3 separate regions of the Homo sapiens genome follow, and regions 2 and 3 are each linked to region 1. Evidence: fine-mapped expression QTL. A gene starts in region 1. Each other region holds a variant in brackets. All regions are shown on one strand. Distances are from middle to middle. Region 1 holds the start of GPRIN1 (G protein regulated inducer of neurite outgrowth 1). Region 2 overlaps TSPAN17 (tetraspanin 17). Region 3 overlaps CDHR2 (cadherin related family member 2).

Evidence for each region. PIP is the estimated chance that this variant, and not a neighbour inherited with it, causes the effect.
Region 2: its variant is the best candidate, but not a certain one, in a credible set for the expression of GPRIN1 in sun-exposed skin (GTEx, PIP 0.57).
Region 3: its variant is the best candidate, but not a certain one, in a credible set for the expression of GPRIN1 in lung (TOPMed, PIP 0.61).

Annotation. Positions count from the first base shown.
Region 1 is chr5:176,603,143-176,612,195 of GRCh38, reverse strand. It overlaps GPRIN1 (G protein regulated inducer of neurite outgrowth 1), which reads left to right and starts at 2,040. Exons shown (of 2, transcript NM_052899.3): 1 at 2,040-2,197. RefSeq lists silencers at 514-808, 1,710-2,339, 2,400-2,459.
Region 2 is chr5:176,650,274-176,658,049 of GRCh38, reverse strand. It overlaps TSPAN17 (tetraspanin 17), which reads right to left. Exons shown (of 9, transcript NM_130465.5): 2 at 6,384-6,434; 3 at 6,150-6,296; 4 at 5,137-5,307; 5 at 3,030-3,155; 6 at 1,925-1,972; 7 at 1,234-1,350; 8 at 1,094-1,155; 9 at 1-532. The coding sequence ends at 352. Among named protein-coding and RNA genes, the nearest start is that of TSPAN17, 6.7 kb to the right of the region's middle. RefSeq lists an enhancer at 6,521-7,776. The variant G/A (reference allele first, on the strand shown) is at 2,670.
Region 3 is chr5:176,557,333-176,567,802 of GRCh38, reverse strand. It overlaps CDHR2 (cadherin related family member 2), which reads right to left. Exons shown (of 32, transcript NM_017675.6): 2 at 2,399-2,465; 3 at 2,060-2,131. The coding sequence starts at 2,450. Among named protein-coding and RNA genes, the nearest start is that of CDHR2, 13 kb to the right of the region's middle. RefSeq lists an enhancer at 722-1,687. The variant G/C (reference allele first, on the strand shown) is at 4,624.

The sequences.
Region 1 (9,053 bases):
TCCCATGTGCCGACACCCCTCCCATGACCTCCGGCACCAGCTGGAGGTGGATGGGCTCCCTTGTCTGCCTTCAGCTTTGGCCACGGCAGAACTCAGTTCTGGACTCAAATGTATCAGCACGGCCATCCTATAAACCCCTCTTTCCCCCCAGAGCTCATAAATTATCTGTCCTTCATCCACCTGGCTCCCCAAGGCAGAATCTCAGAGAGACAGCAGAGTTCTCTCTCCCCTCCACCCACATCCACCTCATGGTCAAGGCCTATTGATTTTACCCCTAGATAGGTATCCAATCTGACTCTTCCTCTCCATCCCTACAAATGCCGCCGTGGTTCAGGCATCATCATCGCTCACCTGAACACCTGCCATAGCCTCCTCACTCCTGCCTAGTCTCTGCTCCTGTCCACCCTTGTCCTGTCCCAGGGGGACCTTTTTCGATCACAGGTTGGTTCTTGCCACTTTTCACATCTGTGAACTTCTCCAAGCCTTAATTTCATCTGTGTCATGGAGCCAGTAATGTTTACTTTGAAGGGCTGTAGGGAGAAAAAAATGAAATGATGAATGTGGAATAAGGGTTTGTAAGCTCTGAAGCGAAATGGCCTTGTGGGCAGTGAATGAGCAATTTTCAGGACCGGAAATGTGAGGAAGCAGCCCTGGTGTGGTGCTGTCCGTGGTTCTGAAACCGGTCCGACACGCTGAGGTTTTCTCCTTGCCTGGCGTGCTGCCTGGAGACGCCAGTCCCACGGATTTTCTTCATTTATCACCTAGAATTTTAAATATATATATATATATATATATATATATATATATATATATATATATATATATATATATATTTTAAAGGATCACGGTGACTTACGGTTCACCAAGTAAGAGAGGGGAGTAAAATGTAAGAATAAGAAGTGAGGTTTCAAAGTTAGACTGCATGGGTTTGTAATCCCAGCTCCACTACTAACTAGATGTGTGACCACAAACAAGTTACTTATCTGCTTCTCTTTTCTTATCTGAAAAATGGAGATATAATACATTAATATTAACTTGCTCCTAAGCGATTGGAAATTGAAATTAGATAAAACCTGTAAACAGAATCTTAGCGCCGTGTCTGGCCCTACATAAGCATCATTGCCAATGGTTGTTACCATTGATTAATAGATGGTGGTGGCTTCATAGTACCGGTGCGAGAGGGTTTTGTCACATCTAGAGCAATTACGGAATTATTTTTTCTCCTCTGGGAAGTCAAGGGGAAGGGAACTCCTTCTCTGCAGGGAAATGTGGAGGGGGTGGGCAGCGAGTCTCTGTGTCCTTGGTGATTCAGATACCACTGGAAACCCCTGAACACCTACTTTGCCCTTCCAAGACCACCGTGAGGTGCATAATGTTAGTCCCGTTTTACAGATCGAGAAACTGAAGTGCAGAGAGGTGAAATGATTTGCTCGAGGGTATCCAGGGGGAGGGGGGAGGGCGGGCGGGCCCCCGGGGAGGCCGCAGCCAGGGACTGGAAGGCATCTCTCCCGCACCACTACCTCCGGCGTCCCCGCCACTCGCTGGAGCGTGGGCAGCGGCGAGACAAAGGGCCGGGGGCGGGGAAGAGGAGGCCGGAAGTGCGGCCGGGGGTGGGGGGGGCGGAGGCGGGAAATTTCCTCGCTGGCGGAGCCGGGAGATCGCGCCGACCTGGGTCCCCATCCAGGCGCCTCGAGTCCTCAGGCCGGCGACTGCCCCCTCTGAGCCCCAGTTCCCTCCTTGGTCAAGCCAGGCGAGGGCTTTCGAGGGGCTGGTCTAAGATCTGCTAGACGGCGCGCCCCGCCCTCAGCAAGCTCGCAGCAAAGGGGCAGCCTCTCCGGCCCTCAGTCTCCCTGTCTGTGAAGTGGGAACCCGCTCGAGGACGGCGCGGAACCCGGGAGCCCAGCGGCCGCAGTTAGGGTTGGCCAGCGAGGGGCGCCCCTCCCTCGCTCCCTCCGGCCGCGGTTTCCCCGCGGTCACCGCCCCCTCGCGGTTCCGAGGCGGCCGGGCGGCTACTGCGCATGCCCGGGGCGGGGCGCGGGGCGGGAGCGCGGAGCCGGCGCTGGGGACGGCGGCGCCGAGTCTGCGGGTCCTCCCGCCAGCCCGGCCGGAGGCAGCCGAGGCCGCTCGGGCGGCGGCGGCGGCGGCGGCGGGAGCCGGAGCGCATCTCGCCCAGGAGCCGGAGCAGCGGCACTGCCTGGTAAGCGCCGCGCCCACACCCGCTGTCTTTCCGGGCGGGCGGCGGCAGCCCCTTCATCCGCTCGCTGCCGCCCCGGAGCCGCTGTCCAGGGTCCTCGAAGCCCCCCGGCGGCGGGGCTCGGACACCTCGCGCGGCATGAGCCCGGGTGTGTGCGCGCGGCTGGGGGCGGTGGGTGTCTGTTTCCAGGCTCCTCGCCGGGGCGGGGCGGGGCGGGGCGGGGCGGGGGCGGGTCCCGCAGCCCTGGGCCGAACATCAGAGGGGCCCGGCGGGCCAGGCTGACCTGGCTGTGGGGTCGGCCCCGCGCCCGGCCTTGCCGCCGCCCGCTGGCTTTGTTCGGCATGGCCGCGCGGGAGGGGGTGCTTCCCGCCACTGGGGGGAGGGCGTCCTCCCGCGTTGATTCATCTTCCCCGGAGCGAGCTCAACGCTCCACTGGCTCCACTCGCACTACTGAGCACACTCGCCGTCACACAACCAGTGTGGCACACACTCCGGGGCGCGATCACACAACACCGCGTTCACGCACGGGCGCCTCATTTCCTCGAGTGAGGCCACAGGTCTACCGCACACACACAATGGCTGTTGGTCATTCCATTAGACTCATACACACGGCCACCTGTCACCCAGGGTACTGGGTGGGAGCCTTGCGTACACACCCAGGCACAGCTACGCACTCAAACCAGCCATCGCGGATCACAGCATGGACATCAACTCAACAATACTCCCTGATCACAACACACTCGGGGCCACCCTGCCCTGGCCTGCTCACCCCTGCTCATGGGGTCCCTTGCGTACCCAGATACCCTGGAGTAGACTGCCACCCTTGTGCACACACTCCCTCTTACACACACACTCTGTCTCTTAGCGTGCTGCCCACTCCCACCCACACTGGCCCACGTTTGCACGTCCATGAACGTCCATTCTTGCCCTCCTATGTATGTATGTATGCATGGTCTGAGGGCCGTTTCTGGAAGCAGGTCTGGCTAACACCTTTAGATTCCTTCTCCCCCCACACCCCCGAGCAGGAGACTTCGCTGCTCTGAGGGCACTACGAGAGAAGGGGACGAGGGGCAGCAGACTGAGATTCTCAGACACACTCAGATGCCTGACGAAGTCCCTCAAGCCTTTGTTGGTCTTGTCAGCACAGAAGAGGTATTTGCAGGTGCTTGGCAGTTCTGGCCCTGTTTATGGGTGTAAGGATAGCTCCATGCTGGAAAGAAATCCTAGAGGGAAAGGAATGGCTGGCCAGGTCTCTGTGGCCTGAATGGGCAGCCACAGGGGCTGCTGCTCTCCCTGGGAGCAGGACACAGGCACCTGTGCAACACCCAGATAAGCTCTCCTAGGAGTGAGATACCCACAGGGTCCAAGTAGCCCCCACGAGGCACAAACACACAGGCCATTCTGCACATGCAGGGTGTACATACGCACAACAAGCTCTTCTTGAGCAGAACACAGGAGCCAGGTCCTGGCCCCAGAGTGGCCCAAGCTGGTACATACATCCACAAGCAGTCTGTTCACTCCTTTGCATGCCAGGTGAGCCCGCCTACATACCTAGCAGACATTTCTGCCTTCTGCCTCAGTCAGGCCACACTCAACCTGTTTGTGCCCAAGTGTACAGGCTCATCTGCTCATAGGGTGTGTGCGTTCCCACAGGTGGGGGAATGTATGCAGGGGGAGGGGAGCTCTTGCTTCTTCTACTGCATGCTCCTTGGCACTGTTGCTTGGGAGGAACCTTGGCCTGACCTCAAAAACCAGAAAGGGGGTTTTGAGAACCAAGTGTCAGGCCAGGTGCAGTGGCTCATACCTGTAATCCCAATACTTTGAGAAGCCCAGGCAGGAGGATTGCTTGAGGCCAGGAATTTGAGACAAGCTTGGGCAACATACCAAGACCCCCATCTCTACAAAAATTTAAAGATTAGCTGGGTGTGATGGCGCATGCCTATAGCTACTTAGGAGTCTGATGAGGGAAGATTGCTTGAGCTGAGGAGTTGGAGGCTACAGGGAGGTATGATTGTGTCACTGCACTCTAGCCTGGGTAACAGAGTGAGACCCTGTCTTCAGAAAAAAAAAAAAAAAAAAAAAAAAAAAAAAAAAAAAAGAGCCAAGTGTCAGTGTCCACGATCTTAGAAAGAACTCAGGTTTTGTGCTTGGGCACAACTGGCTTTGAGCTACAGCCTTCCCTCAGTTGTGTGCCCTTGGTCAAGTCTTGACCAAGTTGTGTGCCCCAGTTGTGTGCCCCAGTTGTGTGCCCTTGGTCAAGTCTTCTCCCTCTGACTTCAGTGGCCTCATCTGTGAAATGGGATGATAATGCCCCCCTCATGAGATTGTTGTGGGATCCAGATGATAAAAAGAGACTGAGACCGGGTGCAGTGGCTCATGCCTGTAATCCCAACACTTTGAGAGGCCGAGGTGGGTGGATCACTTGAGGCCAGGAGTTCAAGACCAGCCTAAACAACATGGTGAAACCCTGTCTCTACAAAAAATACAAAAATTAGCCAGGTGTCGTGGCACATGCCTGTAATCCCAGCTACTCGGGAGGCTGAGGCAGGAGAATCACTTGAACCTGGAAGGTGGAGATTGCAGTGAGCCGAGATCATGCCACTGCACTCCGGCCTAGGCAACAAAACAAGACTCGGTCTCAAAAAAAGAAAGACAGTGAGCGTGCTGGGCCCAGGTAATGGAGCTGGGTTCTAGTGGGGTAGTTGCGGGGAGAGAATGTGGGGCCTCAGGCCTGGGCTGCCTCTCAGAGAAGCAGCTCGAGGATCCTCAGGCCTCCCCAAGATCCAGGAAGGGCCCAGCAGAACTGTGAGCAGTAGAGCCTCTGGGAGTGGTCTTGGGGCAGTTCTGAAACCCAGGGCTGGCCTATCTCTTCCAGATGTAACTACATCCCCTCTCCCATTTCACAGATTGGAAAACTGAGACCCACGGAGTAGAAAAACTCACTCAGAGTCATAGAGGATGTCAATGACTAAGCTGGGGCTTGACCCCACATCTTTCTACCTCCCTGACCAGGCTCTCTGTCCCTACCCTGGACTTTATCCCATCTCAGAGGCTGGAAAATACAAGTTGGGGACGGGAAGCCTGGGGACTTTCAGAAGGGGCATGTTATCAGCTGAGCCAAGCTTGCCTCTTAGAACCTGTTTCTTCCTCTGGAAAACAGGACTACAACAGCTGCCTGGCAGGCGGGTGGGATTTGCACATAGTAAGGGCTCGACTTGTACAAGGTCACCTCTGCCTTTCATGGCATTGTGCTCCAGGGTCCACACTCAGGTGGCTACAGGCCAGGAGGGTAACATACATGAAGGGCCGGCTGTGAGAAAAACGACAGTGAGAATTCCATGATTGATGGCAGCAGACAGTCAGCCTCAGTGTCTAGGACACCGTGGGGAAGAGGGGGGATTGTGGCTGATTGGAGAGTACACCCCCATCTAAGGAGGCTGTCCCTTTGGGGCTCCAGCTGAATGTTGCCAGGCAGGAAGCACGCTCAGACTGCCAAATTTTAGTTTTCCAAGAGAAGCTGGAAATCTTACTGTCACATGAAATCTTCTAATGTTTAGAAGTTGATCGGTTAATTCCTTTTTAAAACTGATTTTAAAATGTGTTTAGCTCTGTGGGTCAAACAAGCCTGTCTGAGGGTCAGGTTTTGCTGGTTTGTGTCCCTGCTGCAGACCCTTTCCTCCCCTGCCCCCTCCTGGGAGCACAGCTGGGCTCTGACAGGCTGAGCAGATAAAAACAGGCCTTCCACAGACACAGCCCAGCCCTAAAGTGAGCAGAGTCAGGCACACCCCTCATTTTCTTTAATTCTCACTATAGCCCTGGGGGAGCAGGAGGTGGGTTCTTCAGGGTCCCCAAGGAGGAGAAGGGCGTTGCTTGAAGTCACAGAGCTGATAAGCGGTGGGCTGGCCTGACTTTCTGCCCGGGCTGCACCCAGGGAGAGGAGCTTATTGGCTGGGCTGGTGTGTGAGGACCCCAGGGCTGGGCTTCCAGGGCTGAAATGAGGGGTAGTGAGGGCCCAGAGCACCCTTCCTATATCCTTTGCTGACTCCTTCCAGCTCCAGCTAAACTCCCTGTACACCAGCCAGGCAGCTGTTGAATTCCTGTTTTCCAGAGAAGGAAACAGGCAGGCATGGTAGGCAGATCCTGGCCCTCACTGGAGCCTGGGCCCTTTCTCTCTCTCCCTGTCTCTGTTTTAAAGACAGTTTCTTGTTCTGTTACCCAGGCTGATCATAGCTCACTGCAGCCTCAAACTCCTGGACTCAAGAGATCCTCCTGCCTCAGCCTCTGGAGCAGGCAGGACTATAAGTACATGCCACCACACCTGGCTAATTTCTTTTTTTTTTTTAATTTTAATTTAAAGTTTTTGTAGAGACGGGATCTTGCCGTGTTGCCCATGCTGATCTGGAACTCCTGGCCTCAAGCAGTCATCCCACCTTGACTTCCCAAAGCACTGGGATTACAGCCGCGGAACTCCGCCCCAGGGCCCTTTCCCTTGACCATCTTCCCGGTCACCCTGGCTTATAACGTCCTTTTCCATAGGCCAAGGGCCAGATGGATCAGAGGTTGCAAGCTGGTGACCTAGGGGTCAAAGTTGGCTCATGAAAGTGTTTTGGCCGGGCATGGTGGACCATGCCTGTAATCGCAGCACTTTGGGAGGCCAAGGCAGCCAGTCACTTGAGGCCAGAAGTTCGAGACCACCCTGGCCAACACGGTGAAACTCTGTCTCTAGTAAAAATTTAAAAAATTAGCTGGGCATGGTGATGTGCGCCTGTAGCCCCAGCTACTCGGGTGGCTGAGGTACGAGAATTGCTTGAACCCGGGAGGCAGAGGTTGCAGTGAGCTGAGATTGTACCACTGCACTCCAGCCTGGGTGACAGAGTAAGACTCTGTCTCAAAAAAAAAAAAAAAAAGTGTTTTGTTTAGCCTGTATGATATTTTTTAAATTAGCCAATATTTAAAACATGGATATCCATGCTGGGCGCGGTAGCTCATGTCTGTAATCCCAGCACTTTGGGAGGCCAAGGTAGGCAAATCACCTGAGGTCAGGAGTTCGAGACCAGCCTGACCAACATGGAGAAACCCTGTCCCTACTAAAAATACAAAATTAGCTGGGCATGGTGGCGCATGCCTGTAATCCCAGCTACTTGGGAGGCTGAGGCAGGAGAATCACTTGAACCTGGGAGGCAGAGGTTGCAATGAGCCAAGATAGCACCATTGCACTCCAGCCTGGACAACAAGAGCAAAACTCTGTCTCAATAAATAAATAAATAAAATACAGATATCCAGATTTATGACTTAGCTAAAAAAAAATTTAGGAAACCTGGAGGCACAGCGGCCACATTCACTTCCCTGCTTAAATACTTCCAAGGGGCGGGATACAGTGGCTCACTAGGCGCTAGGTATAATCCTATTGTAGACACGAGATCCTGCTATGTTGCCCATGCTGGTCTGGAACTCTTGGCCTCAAGAGATCAAGGTATAATCCTATTACATTGAGAGGCTGGGGTGGGAGGATCACTTGAGCCCAGGAGGTCAAGGCTGCAGTGAGCCGAGATCGCGCCACTGCACTCCAGCCTGGGCAACAGAGTGAGACATTGTCTCAAATAAAAAGAAAATACTTCCAGGGTTTCCAGTGCCCTTAGGCTAAACCCCCCTCCTCCACCATGCCTCATGTGATTTGCTGCCTCCTCTTCCGCTGCCACCCCCTTTCCGACTCCACTCCAGCTCTTCATGGCTGGCTCAGATGGTAACTGCCTCAGAGGGGCCTTTCTTGACCACATGTCTAAACCAGCTGCCCACTCCTTTGTCTTCACAGCATCCATTATTTGAAATACTATGATTTATTTGCCACTTGTTTATTTCTCTCCTCCCAATCTTTCTGCATCTATAAGGCAGGGACCCCACATTTCTTATTCACTGCTGTATCCCCAGTCCCAAGAATAATGCCTAGAACATTGCCTGTGTGCTCAGTAAATGCTGAGTTAATGGAATGATTCCTAATTGGCCACAGCTGGCAGGAATTGAGTGCCGTTGCCCCTTTAGAAGGGGCCAGTGCCCTCTAGTTTGCCACAGTCCCCACCACTCCCTCTTGTCTCCCTCAGTCTGGGGATGTCAGGAGTCTTTCATCATCTCCCTTGTAGGAGAAAACAAATATTTGTGCCCATATCACTATCAAAAGGCCAAAGATGAAGATGGACTCAATTCACGCCACTCAAATCTGATGCCTGCCTGACCCCTGCAGGCTGGTGACCATCCAGTGATCCCACGAATTCCAACCAGACCTCTCCCGTGCTTCTGGCCTGCTTCCTACTGCCTCCTGGATGTCACCCCCCATAAGTCCCATGGGCACTCCAGTTCCACTTCCGAAACCCAGTGCCCCATGATCCTCTGCAAAACTGTTCCTCTTCCTGTGTTCCCTCTTAGTGATGGTCCCCCTCCCCCACCTCATAAGCCAGAGCCTGAGGGACCCAGTAGTGAACAGTATCGACTGTGTCCCCATCCAGAGACCTGAGGTCTGGCCAGGGACCCAGAGGTGTAAATGGCCAGATGCAGAGTGACATGAGCCTTGTTAGAGGAGGAACGAGAGGCTACAGGAATCCCCAGGAAGCTGGTAGCCAAACAAGGCCCACTAGAGGAGGAGGTGTTTTAACGGAGATCTGAAGGTGTAATAAGAGACAGCCAGGCAAGAAGGGAGGGAGAGATTCCTCCAGAAGAGGGTGTGTAGAGGCTGAGATGGTGGGGGAGAGAGAGAGTGTGTATCTGTGTGTGTACATGTTTTGGGGGTGGGAGTGGGTAATGAAAGATAAATCCCAGCACTTAAGTAGAAACATAGGGGCTTAGGAGCATATTAAAGAGCTGGACT
Region 2 (7,776 bases), 46 kb before region 1:
CCTCAGACCCTCTCCTGGGCACTCTACTCCCACCGCAGTCCCCAGCAAGGCCGCCCTTCCCAGGCTGCACCCTCTTCAAAGCGGGGTCCAGCCTCTCCATCCTTCAGGTCCCCGTGTTTCACTCCAGATTGGCCCGCAGCGGCCTCGAGGTGCAGGGAATAACCCTGCAGAGGTGGGAGGCCAGCTCCTAGTGTACAAGGGTCAGGCGGCACTTAGGTGAGTAGAACGGGCCAGCTGGGGCCCTTGGTGACTGGGGAGGCAGTGTCCCAGGTAGTGTTGCCACCGAAGAGCCGGCGTAGCCAGGTGGTCATTCTTCAAGAGAAGCTGTGGATCTGGACTTTTATGTGAAATCTACCAATTTTTAAAGGTTGGCTCAGGGTATAAACCACCCAGGCCAAAGAAAACATGTCGGCTGGGTGGGGCCGGGCCAGGGGCCCCAGTCAGAGAGTTCTGCTGAGGCCCCGCCGTGGACAGGACCTCGGAAATGGTGGGCGTAAGCCAGTGGTTTTCAAAGTCATCATTCCATTTGCTCCTGAGAGGCAAGCAAGAGAAAGAAAATTCTTGGACCCATTTCAGAGTCTGGGACACTGAGGCTGAGGTGGGTTCCTGGCAGGCTCAAAGTTACAGCTCATAGAAAAGAGTGCTCTGAAGCTGTGTGAGGCAGTGGCTCAGGCAACGCGCCCCATACAGCTACGCACAGAAAGGTGCGTCCCAGCACTGGGGGGCAGGGAACGGGGGGGACCCTCCACACAGCACCTCCCACCCCACTTGGCCTGCACCCTCTGAGCTGCGCCCTTCCTAGTCCCCTGGAGAGTCCACCACCCCAAATGTAGCCGAGACGGTGGCTCCCTGTGCACACGTGTGCCTGCATGTGTGTGTACACACGCATATGGGACAAGAGGCCCAGGCGGAGGCACAGCAACTTCCTCCGTGGGTGGACAGCACAGCGGTTCAGGCGAACCCCTCAAGGCTCAGTCCCAGCAGGAACATCTCCTGCAGCCTTGCCCGTCAGGAGTATAGTAGGAGGGTCCTGGGGGGCCCCCCAGAGGCCTGCGTAGGCCAGGCATGTGGCCATGGCCTCTGGCGGCCTCACCAGTTGGCTTTCACTGCCTTGATGTCACTCACGAGGTTCTGGGCCAGGCAGATGCCAAAGATCTGTAAGACAGAGGACAGGTGAGGGGAGAGTGAGGGCGGCCCCGGCAAGGGGAGGGGCACGTGGGGCCACAAGGGTACCTGGAGGAGGGCGATGCCCATGAAGACTCCCGCCACCACAATCAGGTTGTCCTGCAGCCACTTCTCAAACTGGCCCACGCAGCCTTTGGTGTGGATGAAGCCCTGCTGCTCCAGCTCCTGGGGACACGCAGGCACCAGGCTCAGCCTACCTGCCCTTCAGGCCGGCTCCCACCCTCCCAGCCTGCCAAGCTCACGCCCACCCCAGGGTCTAAACCTGCAGTACCTGCTCCCCACAGTCCCTCCACAAAGCCGGCTCCTTCTCATGGGGTCTCAGCACAGATGCACGCCCCCTCCTGCCTGCCCAGCTTCTCTCCTATCACCTCCCTTATTTTCTTCCAAGCTCTCAGCTGAGACTGTCACATGGCTGTTCATATTGCTTTCTCTAAGGGCTTACCGTCTTTCTCCCTCCACTCCTCCAGAGCCGACTGTCTCATGAGCACCAAATCTCTGGCCTCTAGGGCAAAGCCGGGCACCCCAAGGGTGCTCCACAGAGCAGAACTGAGCAAACCCACATCTGCCCAGGCCCAGGGGTCTACTCCCCCTCCGCTGCCTGGGTGTCTGGCTGGTTCCTGGGACTCAGCACCCTCTCCCCAAAGAATCCCTGAGGCCTTCCAGAGGAGGTTATAGACACTCTCATACCCAACCCAGTACCCCTGCCTGCCTGCCCCAGCCCGGTTCCTACCCCTCTCACCAGTTTGAGCCGGACGTCGTAGCCACACTGGGTGTTGAGGACATCCTCCTGAGGGGAGACAGGCCAGTTAGTGACTTGGTGAGGACGCATCCCATGGGGTCCATGGTACCTGGGCAGTGCGGTGGCTTTTCCTTCTCAGAGGACGCAGATGGGCCCGTGGATTCTGCCGTGTCCACCAGTCTTAAGTGAGCCTCTCTGAGGCCCATGTGCTTTTGTTTTTTTTTTGAGACAGGGTCTCACTCCATTGCCCAGGCTGGAGTGCAGTGGCACGATCATAGCTCACTGCAGCTTCGACCTCCTGGCCTCAAGTGATCCTCCCACCTCAGCCTCGCAAGTAGCTAGGACCACAGGAGTGTACCACCATGCCCGTCTAATTTTTTTTTTTTTTTTTGTAGACACGAGGTCTCACTGTGCCGCCCCAGCTGGTCTCAAACTCTTGGACTCAAATGATCCTCCCATGAGCCACCACACCTGGCCCCACGTGCCTCTTTCCCAGACGCTGGAATGCGTGGCTGCAATCGCCAACCTGGACCTGCCTCCGTTCAGGAATCCTGCCTGCTGGTGTGTTATAAGAATGGGGAGAAACCTGGTCCTTGGCATCCCAGATGGACTATGACTGAAGAAACATCATCAGGAGAGGTTTCTGCCCTGAAGAAAGTCGTAAAGGGACAGAGGTCCCCACTCCCTGCTACCCTGCAACGGTGGCCCAGTGGGGTGCTGGCTGGCAATGACCCAGGCAACCCCC[G/A]TCACATACAACCATAACTGAGAGTGACAGCCTGGCCAACCTTCAAGCTGGCCAGGAGCAGACAATGGCTGCGGCTGTGTTTATGTAGAGGTATAGGGTGCAGGGAGGCCTCCAGGCCAGTCCCCATCCCTGTGCCCCAGGGTCCTGCTGTTTCCATCTCACTACGATAAAAAAGACAGGTCTTGCTGAACAGGGAAAGCAGCCGCGCCCCAACAGGCCTCAGTGCCACCCATGTAAAATGACGTCCCCCAGCATCCACGCCCCCAGAGCAGGGCAGAGCGGAGCGGGGCCCTGTGGGAGGTTTCTCCAGAGTCTGTGCACTGGAAAGTCCCTTACCTCTCCTCCCCCAGCCCCACTCACCGCAGGGTCCCTGACGCAGCAGGAGAAGGGCACCCCGCAGCGCTCCCGGCTGGGGTTCAAGTCAGTGCAGTTGAAGTAGATATTGAGGTTCCAGTCATTGGGGCCTCGGGCTCCGCAGCAAGACCACTGTGGGGGCAGGGGAGAGCCCCAGGTGAGCCAGGCCCATCCCAGGAGCCTCACCCTGTTTGGGAACAAGCCCAGGCTGCAGGAATACAGGGCTGTCTGGGACAGGGCTGGGACAGCCAAGTGGGTGGCCACCTCCCCACCCCCACAGGCCTGGGCCCAACCTCCAGGCTGGTGGAGGCAGAGGGGTGCAAGGGAGGGGACACTGAGCTCCCCCTTCCCCGACCCAAGAGAGGCTAGAAAAAGGGAGGGAGTGGGACAAGGATACTGGTTCAATGACTGTGGCTTCCTCCAGACTACCTGAGAGGCAGGCGCTGGGCCAAGCCCTGTGGCAGCAGAGACCGCTGGGCCCCATGTCTGCAGCAGGCCTCCCACACTTGCCCCAGAGGTTCTACAAAGCCCTCCTCTCTTCAGTGCAGGGACAGGAGGGGAATCCTGCCACCCCCATAGCCGTGCCACCCCATTTCCTCCATGCCGGCTGGCATCATCCCACACCCCATCACCCCCACCCAGAACACCCTAAGCTGTCCCCTAGGCAGGAGCAATGGCGAGTTTGGGATCTGCCATGAACCATGGTCTTGTGGGGCACACGGGTGCACACAGCCCTCACTGAGCAGCAGCGCAGGGGCTGGAGAGCAGCCCACAGGGCTGGGGGAGCTCAAGCTCGGCAGCAGACACAGGCAGGCCCCGTGGCCGAGCCAGAGAGCTGGAGGAGTCAGGCCTGCCACATGCCCTGCATGTGCTGGTCCCAGGGCAGGGCTCAGCCTCCACCTGCCTCCTGGCACCTGCTCAGCGCCAGCTGCTCCTGCTACAGAACACTCTCCCTTCTCTTCCTTCTCCTCCTTTGGGAGGCTTCAAGCTCTCCACGCAGAGGCCTTCCCATTCTCCACCCTTCATTTTGACTCTTACCACAATGTACAATTTTGCATACACACGTATGTACATGCACACATTTGTTTGTTCTGCTTGTTCACCATCTGTCTCTTCCCGACTGCCAGCCCTGAGAGGACAGGTCCCAGCTTTCTTCCCCGCCGAATCCTCAGGGCCTGGCTCTGGGTCCGGCATATGGTAGGCCCTTAACAATCCTGTGCTGAATGAATGAATGAACTGCATCATAACTGCCTGGCTATGTCTGCCTCTGCCCTGGGTTGAGAGCTGCTTGAAGCAGGCACCAGCTCTGCTTCACCTCTGGATCCAGAGCTGACTCTTGGTGGTGAATGGTGCCAAGGGCCTGTCGCCGTGTGTGGGTGTGATCGGGTGTGACTCATGTGTGACTGTGGGACCATGTGTAGGTGTAGGTGTGATCAAGTGTGCCTGCGAGTGTGTGACTAGGTGTGGTTGTGACTGTGGGTGACAGTGTGTGACTGTGTGTTTGTGGTTAGGGGTGAGTGGGCGAGATGGTGCAGGTGGGAGGCAGATAGGGTTTCAGGAACTCTTCTCTGGCTGCTCTTCACTGGGGTTAAGTTTGTAAGTTTGAGGGCAGACCTTCCATCAGGGGTCTAAACTCTAATATACACAGAGGCCAAACATAGTATAAATGAGAGATAAGGGCTGACAGATATAATAAAATACAGAGTGTTGGGAACAATGGCAAACAGAGAGCCTCTGTACCAGTGAAGGGGCAGCAGCAACATAGCTGCAGCCAATACCGTGGGCCCAAGGTTTAGCAGAAGTAGAAATCTATATTTTATGTCACATTTCCTCCATTCTCCCGTGTGTCGTAGGCCCTGGCCTGGGAGCTGCTAGCGTGGAGCCCATGCCCTCTGTTTCCCAAGGCCGTGGCCCTATGGCACTAGGCAAATGGGGACCCATAAGGATCAGCAGGGGCTGGCTCTCCTCGGACGAGGACACTCCTGGGTCTCTCTCCTGGGGCCCGCTAGCCCAGGTGGGTAAGGAGATGGTCCCATCACAGGGAACTTGCTCCCTCATTCGTCTGCCAGGAAGGCGCCTCCTACAGGTGTCCCAGGCTGGACACTGGACTCACGTATTCCTGAGCAAAGTCAATGAGGTTCTGGAGGTCAATGTCGTCCCGGTAGGCCTTGACGTTGTTGTTGATGAAGAGGTTGAGCTGGTCTCGAATCCAGTCCTTGAAGACAAAGGCCAGGATCCCTGTTGCCAGCTCCAGGAAGAAGATGAGACCGAGGAACACGGAGAACTGGGGTTGGGCATACAGACAGTAGGGGTTGGAAACGCAGGGCTCTGGTGACCTCCCAGGGCTTGGGTGTGCCACAGGGAAGGGCTCCATCCCTACCTCCACCAAGACCCAGAGGCGCCCAGAGCCCCCACCTTCTATTATTTTAGTATTGTTATATGATGGTAATAGGCATCTGTTGTTACCTACCCATCCAATTCCCTTTGTCTGGTAATCACACCCTGCTGTCTCTGAAAAACCATCCTCCATGCAAACCTTTAGTTTCCAAGGTTCGGATGGAGACACCTCCCCAAACCCACCAGTCCCAGATACAGGACTGGCAAGTGCCTAAAGCCCACCAATCAGAGCACTGCCTCCCTCGGCCTCCAGGGATTGGTCCAGAGGCAGCCAATCAGAGCCAAGGAAACGCAATTAAAGCACTTTGGGAAAACGGTTGGGAAGAGAGCTCTCAGCCTCCAGCAGGAGTTCCTGGGAGGGCATGGGGAAGCCGGCTCTGTTCCTGAGCCTCCTGCCACCTGGGAATGGAGCCAAACGGGGGGAGCCCGAGAAACAGGGAGAAACCAGGCCAAGTGAAACTGTGGCAGCCCCTGGATCAAAATGCACCGGCAGCCAGCACAACCCTGGACTTTTCTTATTTGAGTCAATAAATATTTTATGCTTGGGCCACCAGGTCTCGGTCACTTACCATACCACGGAAAGGATCCTAGTAAATATAGACAACATGAATCTAACGATGACGATTATAGCATAATAATAAAGCTACCCATCATTAAGCTCCAACTGTATTGCAAGAACTGGATGGGAGGAGATGGGGGTTCCCAGGGGATCTTGAGGGCAGCACTCACAAACTTGAGCAGGAAGGTGTTCTCCCGGAGGGCCCCAATGCAGCCAGCAAAGCCCAGCACCGACATGACGCCTCCAACTACCACAAACAGCCACACGGGGTCAAGGCCTCCCAGATCTGTCAGCGCTGAGATGTTCGAGAGAACGCCCTGTGCCGGGCAGCAGAGGCAGGTGTGGGGAGCTGACCTTCCCACCACCTCGTCCCATACCAGCTCCACGCCCGCCCGCTGCCTTACCTTCTCACCCCAGGCCCAGAGGCCGATAGCCAGGAACAGGGCTCCCAGCACCTGCAAGGGCAGCAACAAAGAGCTCAGGGCTGGGAGCAGCCCCAGGACCCTCCCCCCTCATCCTTCCCCGGTAGCCAGGGCCTTTCCAGCGGAGAGAGGAAGAGGCACAAGGGCTGTGAACGGGATCCGGGGTCCTTTCCATCTTCCCAAGAACACATCCCAGTGCTTCTTCCCCACAGGACACAGCCTGGAGGACTGAACCCTCTGCTAGCCTTGGGATGGACATCAGGGGCCCCTTCCTGGAACTCCAAATTGGAGCAGACGGTGGCCAAGACACTCCTGCCAAGGAGCAATAGCAGCTGTGTCAGCGGGGGTAGCGACGGCGCCAGTATACTGAGCCTCTACACCTGACCGAAGCTGGTGCTGGGGTTCCAGGCTCCTAGCCTCCTTTCTGCACCCTGCCAAGTCCAGCTCTCCTGCTACCCTAAAGCCGTGTGACTGCGGCCCCGCCCTCAACACTCCTCCCCAGCCCAGCCCCATCCTACCCCTTTAACCTCCGCCTGCCAGAGTCAGCTTCCACGGCTCACGACCAGACACCCCTGAATGACAGGAATCTCAATCATCCCTAGCAGGATCCACCTAGGATCTGGCCTGTGCCAGTGGCTTTGCCCCATGGCCACAGCTCTGCCTGGGCCTTCAGAACACCAGCTAGACTCCCCACCGGGGCAGTCCAAGTGCCTCTCCTCCATCCTCAGCTTTCCCACCTTCCTGCCTCAATTCCCTACTGGGAAGAGCCCTGGATGTCCAGGCTGGTCACTCTCACACCTGACCCTGGGCAGGTCCCTGGGCGTGCAGTCTCAGAGGGGGAAAGGCTGTCGTACCCAAGCCCAGGGCCATGACCCCACCTCCTGCGACCTCCCCACCCACCTGCTTTATCTGCAGGCTCCTTCCCCTCAGCACATAGCCACGGCCAAGGCCTTTATCACCTTCCCTTCCCTGACCGTGGGCTCCCCACACTGCTCTATTCTTTCTCTGGAAACATCTTCCCTTCCCTCCTGCCTGCTGGGTCTGCTGATGTGAAACCAAACATCACTTCTCCTGCCTCCTCCCACTTGGCCTGCCCTTGGCCTTCAGACAGGGGACTGAGTGCCACTTTCTCCTTCCTGAACCCCACCTCAGTTAACTCAACCCCATTCCTCCCCGAGCTCCTTCCCAGGATGCTCCGCCTTCACCTGCCCCGGGGATTGGTCCAGAGGCAGCCAATCAGAGCCAAGGAAATACAATTAAAGCACTTTGGGAAAACAGCTGGGAAGTGAGCTCTCAGCCTCCAGCAGGAGTTCCTGGAGGGCTGTGTTCCTGGAGGGACCACCTGTGGCTGGTCCCACGGCCTCCAGCCTCAGCC
Region 3 (10,470 bases), 45 kb after region 1:
TTAAAAATTAGGCCAGGCGAGGTGGCTCATGCCTGTAATCCCAGCACTTTGAGAGGTGGAGGTGGGCGGATCACTTGAGATCAGGAGCTCGAAACCAGCTTGGCCGACATGGTGAAACCCCGTCTCTACTAAAAATACAAAAAATTAACCAGGCCTGGTGGCACGTGCCTATAATCCCAGCTACTGGGGAGGCTGAGGCAGGAGAATTGCTTGAACCCGGGAGGTGAAGGTTGCAGTGAGCTGAGATCGCACCACTGCACTCCAGCCTGGGTGACAGAGCGAGACTCCATCTCAAAAATAAATAAATATAAAAATAAAAAATTAGCCAGGTGTAGTGGTGCACAGTGGCTCATGCCTGTAATCCCAGCACTTTGGGAAGCCGAGATGGGAGAACTGCTTGAGCCCAGGAGTTTGAGACCAGCCTCAGCAATGTAGCAAAACCCTGTCTCTACTTTAAAAAATAAAATATTAGCTAGGCATGGTGGCACATGCCTGTAGTCCCAGCCACCTGGGAGGCTGAGGTGGGAGGATCAGTTGAGCCCAGGAGGTCGAGGCTGAAGTGAGCATGATCGCACCACTACACTCCAGCCTGGGGGACAGAGCCAGACCCTGTCTCAAAAAAAAAAAAAAGTCCTGTGCACTCCTCCCTCTCCAGCCTCCATGGGATAGACATGAGAATAGCACTTGCCTTTAGGGAGCAGAGATTGACTAGAACTGGACACAGGGAACTTTCTGGGGTGATGGAAATACTTTCTCTTGATCAGGGGATTGCTTGCACAGGTTTTGTATTTGTCAATACCCCTTGGTGTCTCTTGTTTCATCTGGCAGCTTTCGACATTCCTGGATTCCATTTTGCACTGCAACAAAGGCTGTGGCTTGTCCCCCAATATCCACTTGTCCCCCTTTTCTGAGAACAATGGAGCCCCAGATTTTGAGCTAGGCACACGGCCAACCAGAATGAAGGCCACATTTGCCAGGTTCCCTTGCAGCTAGGCGTGGGTCTGTGGCTTAGTTTTGGCCAAAGAGACAAAAGCAGAAGCAATGTGTGTAAAATCCAGAAAGGAAGAAGCCCTCTTGTCCCCTTCCTCCTTCTGTGACTGGAATGGTTTCTCGTCTGAGCCATCCTGGCCCATGTGGGTGGGACCTGTGCCTTAGGGAAGTCGGGCCACTGAGCGGGAAGAAGGCTGCGTGACCCCCGCCCCCTCAAGCCCTGCAGGGAGGGCAGCCTGATGGGACATGCCCCCACAGCTCCGTCCGGGCTCCTGGGCGGCCACGAGGGGCGGTAATTCACCTCCGCCTTGTTTGCATCTCTGTTATTTGGGGTCCCAACCAACCCGGCCACCTATGGTTTCTACTTCCCCGATCTATATCCTGCCTTCTGGGAATGTGGTATCTAGGCCCCCTGGCTCCTTCCAAAATAATGTTTCCCAAACTTCATTCGTTCCTGCACCGCTGCCATGACCTTTGCTGTGACTTTTGCCGTGACCATTGCTATGTCTGTGTTCTGTTCCTGGTGCTCATTCCTTAAATTGACTTTCCATCTCATGTAAAGACATTTACTTTAAAAGCAAACTTTACATCTCAAAACCCATCTCACCTGCCATAGACAGAAAGTAACTTTACAAATAAAAACAAAGCAAAGTGAGTCATTAGCTTCTGTGAAAGGGTCTGAGCCTGACACCTGCTCTCCCTTTAAAAAAAAAAAAAGCCAGCGTGGGAGTGGGAGAGATTAGCCAGTGTGAGGAAGGAGGAGGAAGCGTGGCCCAAGGGGATCCTCCAGTCAGAGACTGAAAGCGATGGGCAATGGGGGAGGCCGGATGATTTGGCGCTGGTGTGAGGGCCCCTGGAGGTGCGTCTCACACCTTTGAGGACACTGCTCTTGACCCAGAAGCTGAAGAGAAGAAAACAAACTTCTGGAATCAAAGGAGCTCCCTTCAGTCCCTCTTTGTCCCACAATAAGCCATGGAGTTGCAGGCATGGTGGGGGCTCCAGAGGGCACCCCAGGACTTTCCTGTGGGTCAGGACCTGACATGGGGCAGACACAGGGACCGGGACTCACCCACAGGCAGGTCCTCAGGCAGGATCACTGACGTCATGTTGGCTAGGAACTTCGGGGCCACGTTGGCTGCCACTGTAGGGACACAGTGTGCTGGAACATCGGGACACCCCTGCAAAACCCGATCCCTACCTGCTCCCCTGGGAGCACACACTAGTCCTTATGGCCACCCAGGCCACCCGTCCAGGCCTGGATTCCTCCCCAGGCCTCCCCAGCTTAGCCAAGCACAGGGCTGGCCCATAGGAGCTGGTGTTTGCTGATGAGGGATCCCCCTCCTTTCTGGAGGGTCCTGCCAAGGGTCTCTAGGTTAGGGCTGCGTGGCTGGGGAGGGGAGACACCTACCAGACACCACGAGGGCAGGAAGGAGGAAGCAGGACAGCCATAGCTGGGCCATCACATCCGCAGGGACCTAAGGGAAGAGGTCAGGGAATGGCTCCTGGACTCAGGCCTCCCTCCTTTTGGCAGACTCCCATCTGCCTGGGTCTGACCTGAGCCCACCCACCACTGCTGCTTAGTAGTTCTCCCCCAGGGCCTCTATCACCCTCTGTCCATTTTCCAGATGCTCTAGGGTCAGGGGAACCAAGGGGGAGGCCAGGTGGGGTAGGGGTGACCACGATGTCTGAACCTGAATCCAGGACCTGCCATGCACCAGGAAATGCTCCAAGGCACTAGATGTGCAGCTGTGTTATTCCCACAACTGTGAGGTGGCTGCTAAGGCACCAAGATACGAAGGGGCTTGCCTGAGGCCACGGGGAGTCAATGACAAGACCATGCTTGGAACACAGGTCTTTTGGAGTCCAGAGTTCATTCTCTCAACCACTGCACCATCTATACCTGCCTGTTAGAAGTGTTCAAACTAATAGTATCCTTCACAATCAAGACCCTGGAGAGGGACCATAATTTGTCCAGGACCATCCAGAGACTATGGGTGGGCAGGGTCCTTCGTTCACCTGCTGATACATCTAGTGGCTGTCTTTGCAGCCTTTCCCAAACTGTGCTCCGTGGAACCCTGGCCCTCTGAGATGCGCCACAGCAGAAGGGTTCCCCAGTCAGGTGGGTCTAGGGAGGGCTGCATACTCTGGGATCCTCTTGTTGATTGATAGCCAGACAGAGACCTTAGAAAACCCTGCTGGGCCAGTCTTTTTGATCATCTTATGTTGCAAGCCGTCCCTTGTTAGGGAAAAGGAGAAAAGGGGGACTTTGATTCACTGTCACAGAGAGACCTGAAACATCAAGGCCCTTTCAATGCCCAAAGACAAGGCTGGGCGTGGTGGCTCACGCCTGTAATCCCAGCACTTCGGGAGGCCGAGGCGGGCGGATCACCTGAGGTCAGGAGTTCAAGACCAGCCCGACCAACATGGTGAAACCCTGTCTCTAACAAAATACAAAAAACGTTAGCCGGGCATGGTGGTGGGTGCCTGTAATCCCAGCTACTCGGGAGTCTGAGGCAGGAGAATTGCTTGAATCCGGGAGGCGGAAGTTGCAGTGAGATGAGATCACGCCATCGCATTCCAGCCTGGGAGACAGAGTGAGACTCCGTCTCAAAAAAAAAAGAATCCCCAAAGACAACTGATGTGTCACTCCACAGAAAGCAGGAGAGCAGGATGGGCCCCCACACGTTTTGTTTCTTGCTGTCTGTCTAGAAAGTTGTCTGTATGCTCTATGTTCACTGTGCTACTCTATAATCTTTCTGTAAGACAGGGCTTTTTACTGTATACTTTTTTCTTTTGAGACAGTGTTTCACTATGTTGCCCAGGCTGGCCTTGAACTTCTGGGCTTGAACTCCTGAGTAGCTGGGATTACAGACGTGTGCCACTGTGCCCAGTTTTTTACTGTATACTCTTTTGTGCTGATTGAATATGTTAACTTTTCCAAAAATGAATTAAACAAGCTTGAAAGCAAACAAAGGAACACATTTGCTACTGTAAACTAAAAATAAAATCCTATGCCTCCCACTGACTAAACGGCCCCACTTGTGGCCCAGGAGACCCCAGAAAAACTTTCAAAACTTAGTTTCCAGCCATGGCGGGATGGGAGGTCAATCATGCCTCATTATACCCTTCTCTTTTACAGGCGACACACAATAACCGACCAGCGTTAATGTTAAAATAGAGTTCGCAGGACTGAAAGAATAGACATTCCGTGGCAATAAGATGCCAAATTATAAACAGGACCTGAGGCCATGCCAGGCCAGGGTGAAGCCAGGCAGCCCTACAGAAGAAACTCTGTTCTAACTGCCATGAGGGTTTTTTTTTTCTTTTTCTCTAGCAGCTAAATAAGCACTGGCCTCGAGAAAAGCCAAATTAAAGCAATTACAGCTCATCCAGTTCACAGCTGCTGACGAACTGAGCCCCTGTTCCACCAGCCATAACCGCAGCCTTTTTTGTTTGTTTGGTTTTGAGACAGAGTCTCACTCTGTCACCCAGGCTGGAGTGCAGTGGTGCCATCTCGGCTCACTGCAACCTCTGCCTCCATTGTTCAAGTGATTCTCCTGCCTCAGCCTCCCGAGTAGCTGGGATTACAGGCACCCACCACCACACTGGGCTAATTTTTGTATTTTTAGTGGA[G/C]ACGGGGTTTCACCGTGTTGGCCAGGCTGGTCTTGAACTCCTGACCTCAAGTGATCTGCCTGCCTCGGCCTCCCAAAGTGCTGGGATTACAGGTGTGAGCCACTGCGCCCAGCCCATAACCACAGCCTTGACTGGACAAGAGACTGATTTCAGTAACTTTCTCCTGATAAGAGCCCACCAACCACAGACCGGCTCCAGCTCATTCAGAGATTGCTTACTCATGCACCTTCCATGTCACAAAAAGGCCTTTTGATGTATAGGGCGTAATTGTAATACATTTACATGTTAAGTTGCCACCCCAAGTGAGCGTGGATCATATGTTGCATGCACGTGTGTTCAACATGCATGTGTCAGGAGCTCCTTTATGAATATGCATAGCTCCTCCTGTAACCTGTTGAATATGTATGTGTAGCCACACTGTCCAGCACCAAGCTCCTGCCCCAAACCCCATTTCGAAGTGTCTGTCTCTGGTCTTGGCCGGAGGGATGGCCACCTGCACATGGTCCCCTCTCTTTTTCTAGATTTATATTTTGTGTTTTTAAAAAAGTTAACACTACCAAGCACCCTCACCTGGTCCTGGGCACCTCTTCATGTCCCTTTCCCTCCTGCCCCAGAGCATCTGAAGTAAGCACGCAGCCCTGGGGAGGAGTGGGGGTAGAGGATGGCTTCCAGAGCCGAGCCCTGATGATGAAACAGCATCAAAAACCAGAACTCTCCCTCACACTGCCCACCCCTCCTCCCGAGTTCCAGCCTCGGGGAGCCACCCACCTGCCCACGCCATTCTGACACCTCCTTCTCCTGAACGCCCACGTCCAATCCGTGCAGCCTCCTCTGTTTCTCTCTAATCAGCCTGCATCTCTCCATCCCATACTGGCCGCCCTCCCTGGGGACACTGTCCTCAGCCTCCTCAAGGCCTCCCTTCCTCCAGCCTCTCTAATCCATCCCACTCAACCAAACTAGTCCTTCTGCACATAATCTAATCTTTTCCGCCCTCACTCAAAACCCTTCGATGGCTCCCCATTGCTAGAGTCCAGACTCCATAAAAGGGCTTCCCAAAGACTACCCTCGACCACTCCAGCTTCACCTCGAACCACTCCCTGCATCTCAGCCCACCCCTCATCTCCCGCACGCCCACAGACTCCCTCTGCCTGCTCTCACTACTGCCCGTCCCTCTTTTTGGAATGCTCTTCCCCGCCTTGCTGGCTGATGCACTCTCTTCATTTTTAAAAGCCAGCTCCAAGGCTGGGTGCGGTGGCTCATGCCTGTAATCCCAGCACTTTGGGAGGCCAAGGCAGGTGGATCACTTGATGTCGGGAGTTTGAGAGCAGCCTGGCCAACATGGTGAAACCCCATCTCTACTAAAAATACAAAAATTAGCCGGGCGAGGTGGCACATGCCTGTAGTCCCAGCTACTCAGGAGACTGAGGCAGGAGAATCGCTCGAACCCGGGAGGTGGAGGTTGCAATGAGTCGAGATCATGCCACTGTACTCCAGCCTGGGTGACAGAGCGAGACTCCACCTCAAAAAAAAAAAAAAAAGAACCCAACTCCAGGATCCCCTTCTGTCCAGACACGCCCTCAATGCTCCCACAGGAGAAACTGCCTCCTCCGCCCATCCATGGTGACCTCACAGGATGCTGCATACACCTGAGAGTAACCTCTGTTATCTCTTTGCAGATGAGCCTCTCCCACCAGGCCAGAAGAGATGTGAGGGCAAGGTCTGCGTCTGATGCACCTTTGTGACCCCAGGACCAAGCACAGGGCTGAGCCCAGTGTAGGCTCAGTGAGTATTTCTGAAAGGAATGAATGGATGAGCCAGTGAGTCACTGCAACCCCAGGTGGCTTATCCAGAACACCCATGAGATAGAGCAGAGTGTAATGTGGTATGTGGACCTGAGAGCCTGGGTCCAAATCCAGCATAACCTTGGGCAAGTAACATACCCTCTCTGGGCCTCAGCTTCCTCACCTGTAAGATGGGAATAATAACAGCACCTACACCAGGGGTTTGTGTTGAGGCTTAAACAGTGCCTAGCTCACAGTAAGTACATAATAAATGTGAGAAGTTATTATTGCAGGAAAAGGACGGTCTGTCTCTTGCCCTTCTCATTGTTGGAGTTCCCATTCCTGGTTCCTCTCTTCCGGAGAACTCTGCCCTGGCCAGCACTGGCTAGCTGCAGGCCCTCCTCCCCCAGTGTGCCCTAGACAGTCAGAGATCCTGGTTCTGATCTGGCTACGTGCTTCCCGGGCATGGTCAGCACCCCGCCCTGAAGCCCCAGCACAGCATTCCCTCTTTTAATTCAGATTCATCTCGCCATGCTCCCCACAGACCTGCTGGGGAAACATGGAACATCAGGAAGGCTGACAATCTTAAATAGCTGCTGGCGTTTCCTGAGCACCTAATATGTGCCGAGTACCCTGATTCGCTCATTCATTCCCTCAGTAAATAGTTACTGGGTATCCATGAGCCGCTATCTGCCAGACCCTGCTCCCAGCAATGGGAAGGCAATGGTGAGCAAAACAGTGCAGGTTCTGAATGAGACAGACTACAGACGAGTACGCAAAGTACCACCTAATAGTGCACTGCATCCCTGCTGTGGAGGAGGGGGATGTGGGCGTGATGAGAGTGAAAGAAGGGAACCGCTTTAAGTGGTATGGCAGACAAACATGACCACAGATCTTTTGACACTCCTTCCTGCAAGAGATGAGGACTATGTCTGCTCCCCTTGAATCTGGTGTATTAATCATTCTTTTTTGGCGTCTTTTTTTTTTTTTAATTTATTTATTGAGACAGAGTTTTACTCCTGTCGCCCAGGCTGGAGTGCAGTAGTGCGATCTTGGCTCACTGCAACCTCCACCCCCTGGGTTCAAGTGATTCTCCTGCCTCAGCCTCCCGAGTAGCTGGGATTACAGGGTGCGCCACCACGCCTGGCTAATTTTTGTATTTTTAGTAGAGACGGGGTTTCACCATGTTGGCCAGGCTGGTCTCGAACTCCTGACCTCAGGCAATCTGCCCGCCTCGGTCTCCCAAATTGCTGGGATTACAGGCGTGAGCCACTGCGCCCAGCCATTTGTTTTTATTTTCTGTGTTTTATGATGCTTTGACATCTTTGGGGCCTTGCTGGTTAGGGAGAGACTTCCCTCCTAGGGCTGGCTAATTCCCAGAGACAGCAAGCGCCTTGCCTTCAGACCTGCCTCTCCTATGCAAACCAACCAATCCAAAGCCACGCCTCAACCACCCTTTATCTAATTCTCACATACGAAGCCGATATTTCCTCGCTGTTAAACACCTCTGTCCTCTACCCACTAGATGCCAGTAGCAACCCCCAAGTTGCAACAGCCAAAAATGTCTCCAGACATTGCCAGGTGTCTCCTGATGGGGGAGGGGCCAGATGTCTCCTGATGGGGGAGGGAGAGTGGTGGTAAGATCACCCCTAGTTGACAGCCACTGTTATAGATTTTAAAAAAAATGCAGGAATTAAAAATTTAATGGAGGAATCAGAATATAAAGTTGAGAAATGGAAACTAGGAGAGAAAAATAAGAAATTAGAGGATTAATCCAGGAGGTCCAATGTCTGATTAATAGAAGTCCCAGAAAGAGAAACAGAGAAGGAAAACAGGGAAAGGAAACTATCAAATGAGTACAAACAATAGATTTTGTATAAGTGAATAACACATTTCCAGACTGAAAGAATTCCAAGAACAAATTTTAGAAAGAAAGGAAAAGAAAACCCAAGCCAAAGCATTTTGAGAGTATTAGGGATAAAGACAAGACCCTGAAATCCTCTGCAGAGAAAAACAAGTGACATACAAAGGACCCAGAATCAGAAGGTTATGGGGCTTTTCGGTAACAATCCTGGAGTTAATGGAGCTATGTGTGGGAGATTAATGGTGTCACAAATTATTTGATATTCCTTCTATTGAGAAGGGAAGTCTAATTCCTCCTCTTGAATCTGAGCTGGCCTTAGTGACTTGCTTGATCAACAGAACGTGGCAGAAATGCAGCATTCAGAAGCTCTGCAGCTTACACCTGGGCCTCTTGGGCCACTTTGCTCTAGGAACCTGGAGATACTTTGTTAGAAGTTCAACTACCCTGAGGCCGCCATGTTATAAGGAAGCCCAAGCTAACCACGTTAAGAGGCCTGTGCGTTGAGGGAGAGCAAGATGTCTAGCCAGTCCCCACTGTCCAACCGCTAATCTTTTACATAATCCCAGCTGAGGCCCCAGACACCATGGAACAGAGTTGAGCAATTCCTGCTATGCCCTATCCAAACTCTTATCCTATAGAATCAGGAAATGAGATTTACACCTCTGGCTAGGGTGAAGGGATGAACTTATGATACCATGTAGAAAACTAAGCAAGCAACCGGGCGCGGTGGCTCACGCCCGTAATCCCAGCACTTTGGGAGGCCGAGGTGGGCGGATCACAAGGTCAGGAGATCGAGACCATCCTGGCTAACACGGTGAAACCCTATCTCCATTAAAAAATACAAAAAATTAGCCAGGCGCGGTGGCTCACGCCTGTAATCCCAGCACTTTGGGAGGCTGAGGTGGGTGGATCGCCTGAGGTCAGGAGTTTGAGACCAGCCTGACCAACATGGAGAAACCCCGTCTCTACTAAAAACAGAAAAAATTAGCTGGGCGTGGTGGCACATGCCTGTAATCCCAGCTACCTGGGAGGCTGAGGCAGGAGAATTGCTTGAACCTGGGAGGCGGAGGTTGCAGTGGGCCGAAATCGCACCATCGCACTCCAGCCTGGGCGACAAGAGGGAAACTCCATCTCAAAAAAAAAAAAAAAAAATTAGCTGGGCATGGTGGCGGGCGCCTGTAGTCCCAGCTACTAGGGAGGCTGAGGCAGGAGAATGGTGTGAACCCGGGAGACGGAGCTTGCAGTGAGCCGAGATGGCGCCACTGCACTCCAGCCTGGGCGACAGAGTGAGACTCCGTCTCAAAAAAAAAAAAAAAAAAATAAGAAAAGAAAACTAAGCAAGCAAAACCAGTGACCATGCAGGAAAGGAAAGCTGTACTAGAAGGAGCCCAGGAACATCATACGCCAGTGGCTCAGGGGGTCCCGTTCCCATGGTCGATGGACTACAACCTTACCATGCGCGCTGGGGAAGCGTGATGGGCTGTAAGATAATAAAATCCTCATCTTTCACTTTAAGAAATTAACAGATAGGCCAGGCTCGGTGGCTCACACCTGCAATCCCAGCACTTTGGGAGGCCAAGGCGGGTGGATCACGCGGTCTGGAGTTTGAGACCAGCCTGGCTAACATGGCAAAACCCTGTGTCTACTAAAAATACAAATATTAGCCGGGCATGGTGGCGGGCTCCTGTAACCCCAGCTATTTGAGAGGCTGAGGCAGGAAAATCGCTTGAACCTGGAAGGCAGATGTTGCAGTGAGCCAAGATCGCACCACTACACTCTAGCCTGGGCAACAGAGCAAGACTCCATTTCAAAATAAAAAAAAAAGAAAGAAAGAAAGAAAGAAAGAAAAAAAAATCAACAGATAATGACTTAGCCCAGGAGGCCGAGGTTGCAGTGAGCAGAGATTTCGTCACTGCACTCCAGCCCGGGCGACAGAGCAAGACCCTATCTCAAAAAAAAAAAAAAAAAAAAAAATCTAAGAAGGTGATAATAAAAAGGAAATAAACAGATAATGTCTTAAAAATTATGAGGCCAGGCACAGTGGCTCACGCCTATAATCCCAGCACTTTGGGAGGCCAAGGCAGATGGACCACTTGAGCTCAGGAGTTTGAGACCAGCCTGACCTACATGGCAAAAACCCGTCCCTGCAAAAAATACAGAAATTAGGCCAGCGTAGTGGCACATGCCTGTAGTCCCAGCTAC